Linked DNA regions of Homo sapiens: all the other regions are linked to region 3. Evidence: fine-mapped expression QTL. A gene starts in region 3. Each other region holds a variant in brackets. All regions are shown on one strand. Distances are between the middles of the regions.

Region 1 (4,230 bases), 110 kb before region 3:
GGCTAGTTCTAAGTGGGGAGGCAAAATGAGGTAGCCTCTGGCCTATTAAGAATGGAGAGAGATCTGCATTTCCCTTTGTCTTGGCACTTAATTCAATCATTTACAGAGTGGGAAACATGAATAAATGTTCATTGAAAAGAACATCTATCTCATGCTGCATCCCAAATTAATTCCAGATGGATCAAAGAGTTACATGTGAAAAATAAACACAGGAAAGGCTAGAGGAAAGGCATAGGAGCAGACAGTTCACAGAAGATAAAAAAAAAAAAAAAAGGCCAGTGGTGTGAAAAGACATGTTCTTGAAGATGTGGGGAGGCAGGAACTCTCAGACATTGTCAGTAGGTGTTTAAGTTGATCATTTTTAGATTTGGCAATAGCTTTTGAGGTGTCAAATGTTCCGTACCTTTTTATCCAGGAATTCCTCTTCTAGGTATTTATTCTACAGATACACAGTATTCCCACAAGTGAGCAAAAACTCTGTCAAAAATGTTCAGGCCGGGTGCGGTTGCTCACGCCTGTAATCTCAGAACTTTGGGAGGCTGAGGCGGGTGGATCACCTTAGGTCAGGAGTTCGAGACTAGCCTTGCCAACATGGTGAAACCCCATCTCTACTAAAAATACAAAAATTAGTTGGGTGTGGTGGCGCATGCCTGTAATCCCAGCTACTCGGGAGGCTGAGGCAGGAGAATTGCTTGAACTGGGGAGGTGGAGGTTGCAGTGAGCCAAGATCACACCATTTCACTCCAGTCTGGGCGACAGAGCAAGACTCCATCTCAAAAAAAAAAAAAAAAAAAAAAAAGAATGTTCAGTGTACGCTTGTTTAAAATAGCAAAGTAACTGGAAACCACCTAAATCTCCATCCATGGAAACATTAAATCAAGTAGAATTCCATGCAGCTGTTCAAAAGAATAAGATAGATTCAGTAGCATTCACATGGAGAAATGTCCAAGGAGCACTGATAATAGGAAACAAAAGGCAAGCTGGAGAGCAGTATGGATAACATAATTCCATTTGTGTTAAGAAAGAAAACAAGTCAATATAATTCCTAAATATAAAACAACAATACCTGGAAAGATTTATAGGAAGCTTTGACAGTGGTTTCTTCAGAGGGAGTGAGTTTCATGCTGGGGGTAACAGGAGAATTTTATCTTTGTGCTTTATACCTTTCTTTACTGTACAATGGGTTATTTTACAATGTACATGTAATCAGTTTTATAGAAGAATCAAATTTAGAATAGTAATTATCTCAAGGGAAGGAGAGAAGAGAATGGGACAGAGGTTATAGGGCCCTTTAACTGTATTTCCAATATTATGTTTCAAAAAGAAATTGAAATGGTGAAAATGGTCAATTTTATGTCAGCATATTTTACTACAATAAAATAAAGAAGAAATTGAAGCAAATGTGGCAATATGTTAAGAACTGCTAAAGCTGGGCTGGTGCAGTGGCTCACACCTGTAGTCCCAACACTTTGGGAGGCCAAGGTGGGAGGATTGCTTGAGCTGGAGATCCAGGCCAGCCTGGGGAACATGGCGAGACCTGCCTTTTCCGAAAAATGTAAAAATTAGCCAAGTGTGGTTTACTCAGGAGGCTGAGGTAGAGGGAGTGCTTGAGCCCAGGAGTTTGAGGCTGCAGTGAGCTATGATTGTGCCACTGCACTCCAGCCTGGGCAACAGACAAAGACCCTGTCTCAAGAAAAAAAAAAAAAGAATTGGTAAAGCTGGTTGGTGGGTACAAAGATGTTCATTCTATAATTCCCTATGCTTTTCCAAATATTTGTTGCACTTCACAACTTAGAAAAAGAGTTTAAAAATTCATTCAACATAACAAGATCAAGTAAATTAAAAAGAAACCAGAAAAAAAATGAAGCAAAAGGAAAATAAGAGCAGTAAAACAAAAAACTTTATAACCCATACTAAATGCATTAGATAACCTTTTATTTATTTATTTATTTATTTATTTATTTATTTATTTATTTATTTCTCATTCTGTCACCTGGGCTGGAGTGCAGTGGTGCCTCCACCTCCCAGGTTCAAGCGATTCTCCTGCCTCAGCCTCCCAAGTAGCTGGGATTACAGGTGTGTGCCACCACACCTGGCTAATTTTTGTATTTTTAGTAGACATGGGGTTTCACCATGTTGGCCAGGCTGGCCTCGAACTCCTGAGCTCAAATTATCCACCTAAGCTTCCCAAAGTGCTGGGATTACAGGTGTGAGCCACCATGCCAGGCCAAATAACTTTCTTACAAGCAGCTGGAGAAATTTAATCATTGTCTCGTAGGAGGTATAGGAACTTCATGTTTCTCATTTTAAGCTCTAGGAAGCACTTTAGTCCTGGAGCTTACAGTCAATCTGTAAGAAACAGACAGATTGTTGCTTAGAAAAGCTCAATTTACCAATCCAGCATGGAGGCTGGATTTCAGTGCAAACCCGAGGTGGGTGAACAGTTCAGAGCCTGTTTCTC[T/C]GGGTGCAGATGAGAGCCACAGAGAGTTCTGGCAGCCCAGGGGGGAGGGGGGCTGGACGGATTTATTACAGAGGGCCTCCCTGGGCAGAGGATTGGAACAAGGAAAAGGATGAGGAGCTGACCACCAGGGAAGCAGGTGCTCCCCGTGGGCCTCTGACTGAGCCCTGATCCTGTATGCTTGGCCCTCCTTTCATAGCATGGGGCATTTTGGGTGAGTGAAGATGCCTCCCGATGGTTTGGCTCCCAAACATTTGAGTCTTCTCACACGCCATGGTCTTCACCTCTCTGACCCTTCCCCTGCCCTTGCCCTGGAGAGCTGGAAAAGCAGTAAATCAGTGGAAGGGGCTGCCCCAACCCCAAGGCATTCGCACCCTTCCCTGGCCCATTTCCCGGCACAGGTCACAGGCAGGGTCTTAATCTGCTGCACCTGCAGTTCTTTGATCCATTTTGGTTTCTTTTCTTTTGAAAAACGTTGACCGCAGTGCAATCTTGACTCTGTTGCTTTGAAAACCCTCTTCCTGTGAACTTGCGATGCCAGTGATAAAGAAAAGGGCAGAGGGCTGCGGGTCTTACCAGGGGCCTTTGTTATGGGCGCTGAAGGGGAATAAATATCACAGGTGGGCAGAAGGTGGGGCTGGGCCTGGAGACGTTCTGAGGGCTTGGGTTGTTCGGGCCCTAGGCTGGGGACATCCAGGGCCAGGCGGCTACTTGCTGATAATCAGGCTTCCCAGCTGCCCTGGAGCCCAGTGGGGCCGTGAGCTTCCTCCCACCTAGATGCTACTGTCTAGGGTGCATAGGAGGATCCCCACACTGGGGGAAGTGAACTCAGCACTGCCCAGTTTCCTACCAGCTGGGCCCACGATTCTAGGCAGAGCTGGGCCTCCTGGTCTAGCTGCCTGCCCCTCTGCCACCCTGAAGGCCGACGCTGCGCTGCCTACAGGCCTGCTGCTGCTGCTCTCCAGCCTCCCACAGCTGCAGGATTGGGGTGTGAGTGAGTGTGTGGAGAAAGGGTTTCTGGGTTCCATTCCTGGCAAGGACTCTAAGACCTCCTGAGCCAACCTCTTGTCAGTGATTGTTCTGCTGCCCAGGGCTTCTGGGGCTGGTGACTGACTTCTCAGTGGCCCCGATTTTGTGTTCTTGTTGCTGACTCTTGGAAACCAAATGCTGGCAACCAGCCTGTGCCTGCCAGACTCCAGGCTGGGACCGTTAGATACATGATTGCTTTTCAAATTTGGAACAAGCAAAACATAAGCATGCTCATCAACACTCTTGTACAGAGAAGGAAAATGAGTCAGGATTGGGTGCCTTTTTCCAGTCTGCCTGCCAACTTTCTCCACCTTGCTCTGCCCCCTAGGACTGTGGGAACTACGTCTATGGGTGCCCTTACCCTCTGCCTTGGTCACTGGGGAGCGCCGATAGCTTATGGGAGGCAGAGAGGAGAGTGAGGTCAGGGCACTTAACCTCCTGTGGGGCAGCCACAGCCTGGCTGCATCCCTCCATGAGGCCACAGCTGCTGCCAGGCAGCCCTATCTACTCAGCTCCAGAGCTCTGCAGGTCCAGTGACCTCCCCTGGGGCCATCAGGTCCAGCATCAGGAAAGCCTGATGCTCTTGGTCCAGGTTCCTGCAATCCTTTTCCAAGACCTTTGACAATAGTCTCCTTATTGAATACTTCTCAAATCCCCCAGTTTGAGTATGTTGACGGCTTCCTCCTGGGACCCTGCATTATCCATACCATCCAGCCAGTTGATCAGCAAGGACTCCTGGGTCT
Region 2 (4,238 bases), 49 kb after region 3:
CCCCCCATTGATTTAACTTGTACATCCTTCTGGCATAACCCCAAGACAATTTTAATGTCATTTAATTATTTATAGTCCATCCCTCCTGGCCAGACGGAAGCAAGCCATGCCTACATTTAATTCCAGGGCTTAGCCTAGAGCCTGAAACAGAATAGTTGCTTAAAACACATTTCTGAAATGAATGAAATAAAGAGTAGGTCAATGAATTAACCCAAGTCCTTTGAAAGCTTCTTCTGATGTCATCATTTCTTCCTCCAACCCCACCTGGACTCTGGGGTCCCACTGTGCCCTTTTACCTAATCACTGACTTCCTCACTTGCCCATTTATGTGTCTGTCTTCCCCATCAAAGTGTGAACTCTGAAGATGACTGCCTTAATCATTTTTATACCCCTAGCACCTGATATACACTATAAACATTTGTGGGGTGAATAAATGAATGAATTACAGTTACAGAGGCAAGCAATTAGAAAAGCTCTGAAAGTTGTTAAGGGGAAGCTAGAGTATCTGGTCTTTGCATCCAGAAAAACAGACTTCTCTTTCCAAAGGAGAAAATGTGGTTAAGTAGAAAGCCCATATGCTTTGGAGAGAGAAGGCCTGAGTTCTAATTCCAGCTCTTCCACTTACTTTGGGCAAGTCACTTATCTTATCTGAGCTTCAGTTTCCTGCACTGTAAACTGGGAATAGGATTGGAGATAATGTTTGGAGGTGTCCACCACAGGCATGGGCATGTAGTAGGCTATAGCTGTGCTTGGCTATTATTACTATTTACACTTATCGTTATTAAGAGGTGTAGGAGGAATACAGAGCAAAGAGAGCCGTTAAATTTAGAATTTAGGGTTGTGTGCGGTGGCTCATGCCTGTAATCCCAGCACTTTGGGAGACTGAGGCAGGTGGATCACTTGAGGTCAGGAGTTGGAGACCACCCTAGCCAACATGGTGAGACTCCGTCTCTACTAAAAATACAAAAAAAATTAGCAGGGCGTGGTGGTAGTCCCAGCTACTCGGGAGGCTAAGGCAGGAGAATCGCTTGTACCTGGGAGGCAAAGGTTGCAGTGAGCCGAGATGGTGCCACTGCACACCAGCCTAGGCAACAGGAGACTCTGTCAAAAAAAAAAAAAAAAATTAGAATTTGGGTAGCTTTGGAGGAGATAGTTTGGGTGTGGAACGGAGTGAGGGGGACCTCTAGTCATTGTCATGGTGATACTAACCATCAAATACTGAGCCTACACTCCAAACACATCATTTCATTAATCCTCACAATAAATCCTAACGTCAGTGGTATCACCCCAATTGTCAAAAGGAGGAAACCAAACCTCAGAAAACATTTTTGAGTTTCAAGGTCACAGAGCTAGTAAGTGGTTGAGCTGGGTTCAAACCCAAACTCATTTGATTTCAAAGCATGTGCTCCAATTTTAACTTTTATTATCTTATTCTGAATAATCTGGGAGCTGAGAATATTCTGGAAATAAAATCCAGGTTAGAGACCTGCCAAGAGCCTAGACAGTGAGTTAAGCTGGGCTAAGGCACTGAGTAAACTCAGAAATGTCTGTTTGTCATCTCCCTGTGCTTACTGCTCCTGTTGTTAAAGATGTCTTAGCATCTTAAACAACTGAGCTTGTGCTGAACCAGTGAACTACATTGGGTGTGGGAGCTGGTCCTTGGGGGAAAAAAATCTCTCCCTGCACCCATATGTTTAGAAGCAGAAAGTTACCCGTGATTTTAAGAAAGCTGCCTTTTAGGAGACTGCCCTGGGCCTGGCTTATCACATGAATACAGAATACTGGTTTGCATTTCACCAGCCTACATCAGATGTTTGTTTTAGCATACCATACATTCTTAAAGCATGCGGGACAAGGAGATGCACTCCAGGAAGGGCCCTTTCAAAGTTTCGACTGGCTGTAACCTCTTTTGACCTTTGCTCTAGTGCACAGGCTCATCCTAGTCAAAGACTTGTCTTCAGCATTACAAAATTTAGAAACCAACTCTGAATTCACATGCATTGTTTGCCAATGTTTTTCAAGTCTTCTCACTTCCAGCTGGATGGTCTTAAATGTACTCTGACCCACACAGTTTCAGGCAAGTTGCAGAGCGCTTTGTAGGTATCCGATAAGTATGCCCTGAATTGAGAGGCTAATTAAACAAGAGGAATTTAGCAATATCACCTCTTGGCGTGAGTATTATGTAGCATCTGTAGTCGGGAGGGGTGGAGGGGTTGTAGAGCAGGGGTGACTTCTTTAAAACCTCTCAGTTTGCATATATGCCTCCCCTACGAAAAGTCCTGCTGGTAATAAACATAATCTGCCCTGTGTGTTCCCACCACAGGGGGGACATATAGCATGAATAAGAACTGGCTTCCCTTAGAGAGCTTTTCCAAAGGACACCATCTATTTACTCAGCAAATATTTACTGAGCAAAATGGGAGGAGAAGGGCAT[T/C]CTGGGGAGAGAGAAGAGTTTGAACAAAGCTAAAAAGGAGGGAAAACCAGGAGTATGTATGGGATACACTGAATAGTCAAATTCAGGTGATAAAATCTGAAAGGTAGGAGGGAACTGATAAGTAGAGCTTTGAATGCGTGGCAAGGAGTTTGGACTTACTGAAACAGGCAAAAGGGAGCCAAAGAAGATTTTGAGCAAGTGATAAACATAATAAAAAATGCTTATTAGGCAAGTTAATATGCCAGCAGTTCCTAAATTGGACTGGGTTGAAGAATAACAATATAAAGCAGCCAGCAATGATTGAGTAGTTACTATGTACCCAGCACCATGCCAAACTCTTTGCATACATTTTCTCATTTAATGAAAGTAATAATTAATGCATTTAAGACTCAGTGTCTGGCCCATAATGTATTCCAACCCTCACAATCATCCTGTAAATTGAGTATTATTACCTCAGTTTTATAGGTGATGTCTATATTGGTCTGTTTGCTATTGCTTATAACAGAATACCTGAAACTGACTAACTTCTAAAGAAGTTTATTTCTTACAGTGATGGAGGCTAAGAAGTCCCAGGCTGAGGGGCTGCATCTGGCGAGTCTTCTTGCTGGTAGGGAGTCCCCAGGTAGTTCGGGGCACCCCATGGTGAGAGGCTGAGCAAGCTAATTAACTAATTAATTAACCATTTAATCCATTAATCCATGAATGAATTAATACACAAATGAGGGCACTGTTCACATCAAATGTTTGAGAGTTTTTTTTGTTTTTTTTTTTTCTTTTTTCTGTGTCTAAAGGGTTTTTATTTAAGAGCCTGTAGTGCTGAGTTCCACCAAGGATTTGGAAGGTCACTCTCAGCAGCAGCCACTTCTGCCAGGACCAGTGGTGAGCACCTGGCAGGGCCTTGCTGTTTCCACATAAGGCAAAGGAATCCAGCTTTTCTGTAGGATTTTTGCTGCAGCTGTTCAAAACCTTGTGTGAGCCAGCAGTTCCAGTTCAAAGGTTAAGAGGGCGCATAGCACCTAGGTGGCCAGGTTCCTGTAAGTCACCACTCAGGCCATAAGTCACCACGGAGGGGAGAGACAAAGCAGCCACAGCTGTTCTGTTTCCAGTCCCACCCCTCTGGCAAACAGATGGGGGGAAATGGAGAAGAAAAGTTCACAAAGTCGGTGAAATGGCCAGGCACGGTGGCTCACACCTGTAATCCCAGCACTTTGGGAGGCCAAGGCAGGTGGATCACCGGAGGTCAGGAGTTTGAGACCAGCCTGGCCAACATGATGAAACCCCATCTCTACTAAAAATACAAAAATCAGCTAGGCATAGTGGCAGCCTCCTGTAATCCCAGCCACTCGGGAGGCTGAGACAGGAGAATCGCTTGAACCCAGAGGTGGAGGTTGCAGTGAGCCAAGATCACGCCACTGCACTCCAGCCTGGGCGACAGAGTAAGACCCCACCGAAAAAAAAAAAAAGTAGGTGAAATGAAGAGGGCAGAGGAGCTGCAGGCAACTACTTGCAGGCCCCACCACACACCTGACAGTTCTGCCTTCAAGATCCAATCACCTCTTAAAGGCCCTACCTCTCAATACTGCCACAGTGGGGGTTAAATTTCAACACGAGTTTTGGAGGGGACCAATACTGAAACTATAGCACTGCCCAAGGTTCAAAGAGGTTAAGTATTTTATACCAAAGATCAAAGAGCTATACGTGGCAGAGCTAGGATTTAATCTCAGGTTGATCTGCCACCAAAGTTGACTCTTAAGACAGGGAAGTATTAGGAAGCAATTTCAAAAGTCCTGACAAGTGGTGATGG
Region 3 (4,216 bases):
AAATCACTTGTAAGTAGTGGAGTCAGGTTCAAACCAGGGTATGTAAAGAACTCCAGTGCGGGGAATGAGGACCTCAGGCCTTGCACCAACGTGGAGAATGATTACGTTCCTCCAGAAGCTGAGCAAAGTCCAAATGCCAGCCTCAGTGAACCTGGGCCAGGGCTGGGTTGGTGAAGGAAGGAGCAAGTAAAACTGGACCCCTTTCTCAACAAGTCTGTTGGTTTATCTTTCTCAGGTTACTTCCTCTAACCTTTTATCAGTCTTAAGAACTGTGGTGTCAACATGTTATCTGAAATCATTATTGTACAGTGACCATGTCATTGTTGTATCCCCAGGGCCCAGCACGGTGCCTAGCATCTGGTAGCACATATTTGTCAAAAGAACAAAGTATTCTCTAATGGCATCATTCAACTCAGCCATCATTAACTTGGTACCTATTATGTGCTAGGTACCATTGATCCAGAGGTGACTGAGCATGGGTGCCACCTGGAAGAAGTCTCGGTCTAGGGTGGGGACAGAATGTAACCATCGGTACCACCTTAAACACTTCGAAAAGTACTGTGGAGAATGAATGGATGGCAAATGACTTATCAGAGCCAGCATTGAGGAATGAGCCAAGTCCAATGGGAACACAGGAAAAGGACCCTTTGCTCTGCCAGGAGAGTCACAGAAGGCTTTGCTGGTGGAGGATGAGATGCAATTTCAGCCTGAAATGATGAGGAGTTTGTCTTCAGCCATGTGGAGAAAGGAGCATTCCAGGCAGAGGGACCAGTCTGAGCAAAGGCATTCGGGTGTAAAATTATTGCCTAGGATTGGAGTGAAGGATATGTAGCGCTACTGACAAGAGACTCCTCTTCAAGAGCAGGCCACATATCCTTTATTTCCCAGGGGGTGGAAACGGGCAACCTCACAGAGGAATTGAATCATAATGAATTGAAGAAAGAAAAATCTCCTGAAGTTGGCATTATAATTAATAGGCTTAGGCTCATCCTACTAGTCCTCACTTAGACTCATTCTCATGTAGAAACAAAACGTGATTAATCACCTCAGTAAGTGCAATTTCCAAAAACATCCAGGGAAATCTAGGGTCCAGGTGCAGGACCTTTCCAATCTGAGTTGGATTTTGCCTCCAGGAGAGAGCATGGGTACCAGCCAGCATTTTCATCATCTAAGGGTCAGGTGCCTTGAAGTGTCTGCTGGCACCCAGGGAAGAGCCCCCCAGCTTGCTGTCACAGGACACAGCTGCTCCCTTCCTGGCCAGGTAGCTGGCCTCCCTCCCAGAATGGGACTTGAAGCTGGCCGGGCTGCTTGGGGGCTGCAGAGGAAGAAGGGGGCTGCCGGCAAACCTGCTGACTCAGGCTCCACGAGGGAGCAAGTAACACTGGACTCCTTTCGGCACTCCGAGAATGGGGTGGGGGCGTCTTCAAAGGATTTCCCTCCCTTCCCAGTGCTTGTCCCTGCTCTCGGTCCGTTTTCTGCTAAGATTTGGGGATTTTCAGGCCTGGAGGGAAAGTCCCTTGGGACGATCATAGAGCGCTAGCACTGAATCAGCCTGGAGAGCGCGGAAGGAAAGGGTCGGTCCGCAGAGGGCGCGGGGAAGGCAGGGTGGGGACGCGGTGGAGCCCGCGCTCGTTTGCTGAAGGCTTGGAAGTGCAGCGCAGAAGACAGAGGGTGACTAGGAAGACGCGCGAGCGGGGCTGGCCGGCCGGCGGGTGGGGGAGGGGAGGCGGGGGAAGGCGGCTGAGTGGGCCTCTGGAGTGTGTGTGTCTGTGTCAGTGTGTGTGTGTGTGTGTGTATGTGTGTGTCTGGCGCCTGGCCAGGGTGATTTCCCATAAACCACATGCCCCCCAGTCCTCTCTTAAAAGGCTGTGCCGAGGGCTGGCCAGTGAGGCTCGGCCCGGGGAAAGTGAAAGTTTGCCTGGGTCCTCTCGGCGCCAGAGCCGCTCTCCGCATCCCAGGACAGCGGTGCGGCCCTCGGCCGGGGCGCCCACTCCGCAGCAGCCAGCGAGCGAGCGAGCGAGCGAGGGCGGCCGACGCGCCCGGCCGGGACCCAGCTGCCCGTATGACCGCGCCGGGCGCCGCCGGGCGCTGCCCTCCCACGGTAAGCGACGGCCGCGGCGCTGGGCCCGGGACGGGCTGGGGCGGGGGCTCGGCGGCCAGGCGGCCGGGAGCGGCCCCTCGGAGCCGACAGCCTGGGCGCGCCGGCTGCACTGGCCCGGCGTTCCCGCCGCGGACGAACCGCCTTTGCGCACGGACTGGGCCCTGGCGCCAGGGCGGAGGCCGGTGGCGGCCCTGCAGCTGCACCGGGACTGCCAGGCTTCCCTGGGAAACGGAGGGCTGCTCACCCCATTGCACGGAGGGGAACACTGAGCCACCTGCAGGCAGGAGCCCCCGCTCAGCCAGGGTGCCCTGCCTCTCTCCCTACCCGCCACCACCAAGGCACGGGCGGAGTGGCTGTGCGCTGAGTGTGTGCCCTCCCCGGTGGGCACCTTCCTCATCGGCCACACACGTGCTTCCAAGGCCCTGCTGAGGAGTGGGCGCTTCTGGGCAGGGAAAGTTCAGGGGGTCAACCAGCTTATAGAACGCCAGGGACTTGCTGGCAGAGGGACGGAGAGGGGCAAGCCACTGCTTGTTCCAGCCCACAGGCAGGAGCTACGGAGGACTTGGGTGGCTGTTTGGGGGGTGGGGTGGGGGACGGCAACAGCCGGCAAACAGCCCCCCACCCCCGGGGCTGCTTGGGGCTAGCTCAGAATCTCTTTTTCTTGCAAATTCTGGTTTCATCGGTTGGGGAGATTCTGGGCTTTGTGGTGGTTTATGGTGGTTTGCAGTGCTTGAGGAAAATGGAAAGAGGGTTTGGTGTTGCAGAGCTGTGTCCAGGGGCAGGGTCTGCTCCTGACTGCGTAAGGGACGCCCTGCCCCAACTGTGGCGGTAGCAGATGCAGCCATAGAAAGTGAGGGTGGCACTGTTCATGACCAGTCAGTGGGCTCATAATAGATTTGCTTCTGAGGAGTCCTGGAAGAAAATGAGAGGGGAAACCTGGGGGGAAAAGAGCAGAAAATTATTTGGGGGTAGAGGAGAGCGGGCTGCAGGTGAGGTGAGAGAGAAAGGGAAGAGTGGGTCCACAGAAAGAAAGTGCCTCACTGAGAGAGAGGAGATAGAGTTGAGAGGGGAAGGGAGAAGGGTTAGCCATAGGCAGAAAGCAAAGCTTCGGGGCTGAAGGGGAGACCATGAGGAAAGAAGAGAAAGACAAGGGGGCTGTGTTTAGACAGGGGAAGTCCAAGGGCCCGGTTCTGCCAGGTCTCTCCAGAGGCCTTGTTGAGGGGGAAGATGAAATGGAATAGGATAGGTGGCAGAGGAGGCTGGACAGCTGGACTGAGGTGTCCTAGCATCTCTGAGCCTGCAGCAGAGATTCCTTCTGAGGGCTGCTCCCCAGGCAGAAGCCAGGGCTAGGGGTGGGAGGAAGAGGCAGTCAGAGGAGAGCCTGCCCAGCCAGATGCAAGCCAGAGTGTTAACCCCCCACTGTCTGTCCAGATCCTCCTGAGGCAGAATGGAGGCCCCAGGTCCAGGGGTATCCCCTTTGGCCAGCTTCGAAGTCAGCCTCTCATGTAGTGGCTGCACTTTCCCCACACTGATGCCTCAAATGTCATCAAAGCCAGACAGCCCTTGGGGTTAAGCATTGCTCCCACCTTGCTCTCCTCCAGGGAGGTTGTCTTCCTGAGCGGTCCCTTTCATCCATACCATTCACTCCAGACCTTGAGTGGCAGCCAGTCTGGGGTAGATACACCGTCTAGTGGCCCAGTTTCCTCCAATCATTCCTGAACCTAAGGTTTCTGAGTACCTGGGCCATTATTCCCACCCAGGGCAACCTCCCCAACAGAGCCTGAAGTCCCCCCAGCCCCCGTGACTGCCGTCCCCCTCTTCCACACTTTCCCTCCCTCAGATCAGCCAGGATCCTCACAGTCCCTGTGCTGAGTGGTATGAAACTATCCTTTGGCTCTTCCTTCCATGGCTCCCACCCCTCTCCTGCCATCACCTTCTCCCCATCTTTCAAGGCCTCACTGAGGTCCCTGCTCTCTGCAGTCTCCCTGGTCACCCAGCCAGAGCTGCCTTCTCCTCCCCAGAAGAGCTGGCAAGCATTTGGGCTTTTGGTGATATGTAGATTAGCACATTGTTGTGGGCTGTTTCATAGCCTCGTTGTGTTTTTCCAGTGAGCAA

Alleles and levels. Alleles are on the strand shown, and positions count from the first base shown. SD is a standard deviation of normalised expression in the study named. Not every link is listed here.
In carriers of allele C in region 2, the expression in esophagus mucosa of the gene that starts at base 1,888 in region 3 tends to be lower than with T alone (small effect, 0.13 SD a copy in GTEx).

The links. PIP is the estimated chance that this variant, and not a neighbour inherited with it, causes the effect.
Region 1: its variant is the best candidate, but not a certain one, in a credible set for the expression of CSF1 in blood mononuclear cells (TOPMed, PIP 0.77).
Region 2: its variant is the best candidate, but not a certain one, in a credible set for the expression of CSF1 in esophagus mucosa (GTEx, PIP 0.54).

What each region holds. Positions count from the first base shown.
Region 1 is chr1:109,799,474-109,803,703 of GRCh38, forward strand. No RefSeq gene overlaps it. Among named protein-coding and RNA genes, the nearest start is that of LINC01768, 26 kb to the right of the region's middle. The variant T/C (reference allele first, on the strand shown) is at 2,462.
Region 2 is chr1:109,958,240-109,962,477 of GRCh38, forward strand. No RefSeq gene overlaps it. Among named protein-coding and RNA genes, the nearest start is that of AHCYL1, 24 kb to the right of the region's middle. RefSeq lists enhancers at 1,580-2,151, 2,152-2,721. The variant T/C (reference allele first, on the strand shown) is at 2,435.
Region 3 is chr1:109,908,962-109,913,177 of GRCh38, forward strand. CSF1 (colony stimulating factor 1) reads left to right here and starts at 1,888. Exons shown (of 9, transcript NM_000757.6): 1 at 1,888-2,101. The coding sequence starts at 2,063. RefSeq lists silencers at 1,982-2,151, 2,202-2,311 and enhancers at 2,097-2,597, 2,598-3,098, 3,175-3,274.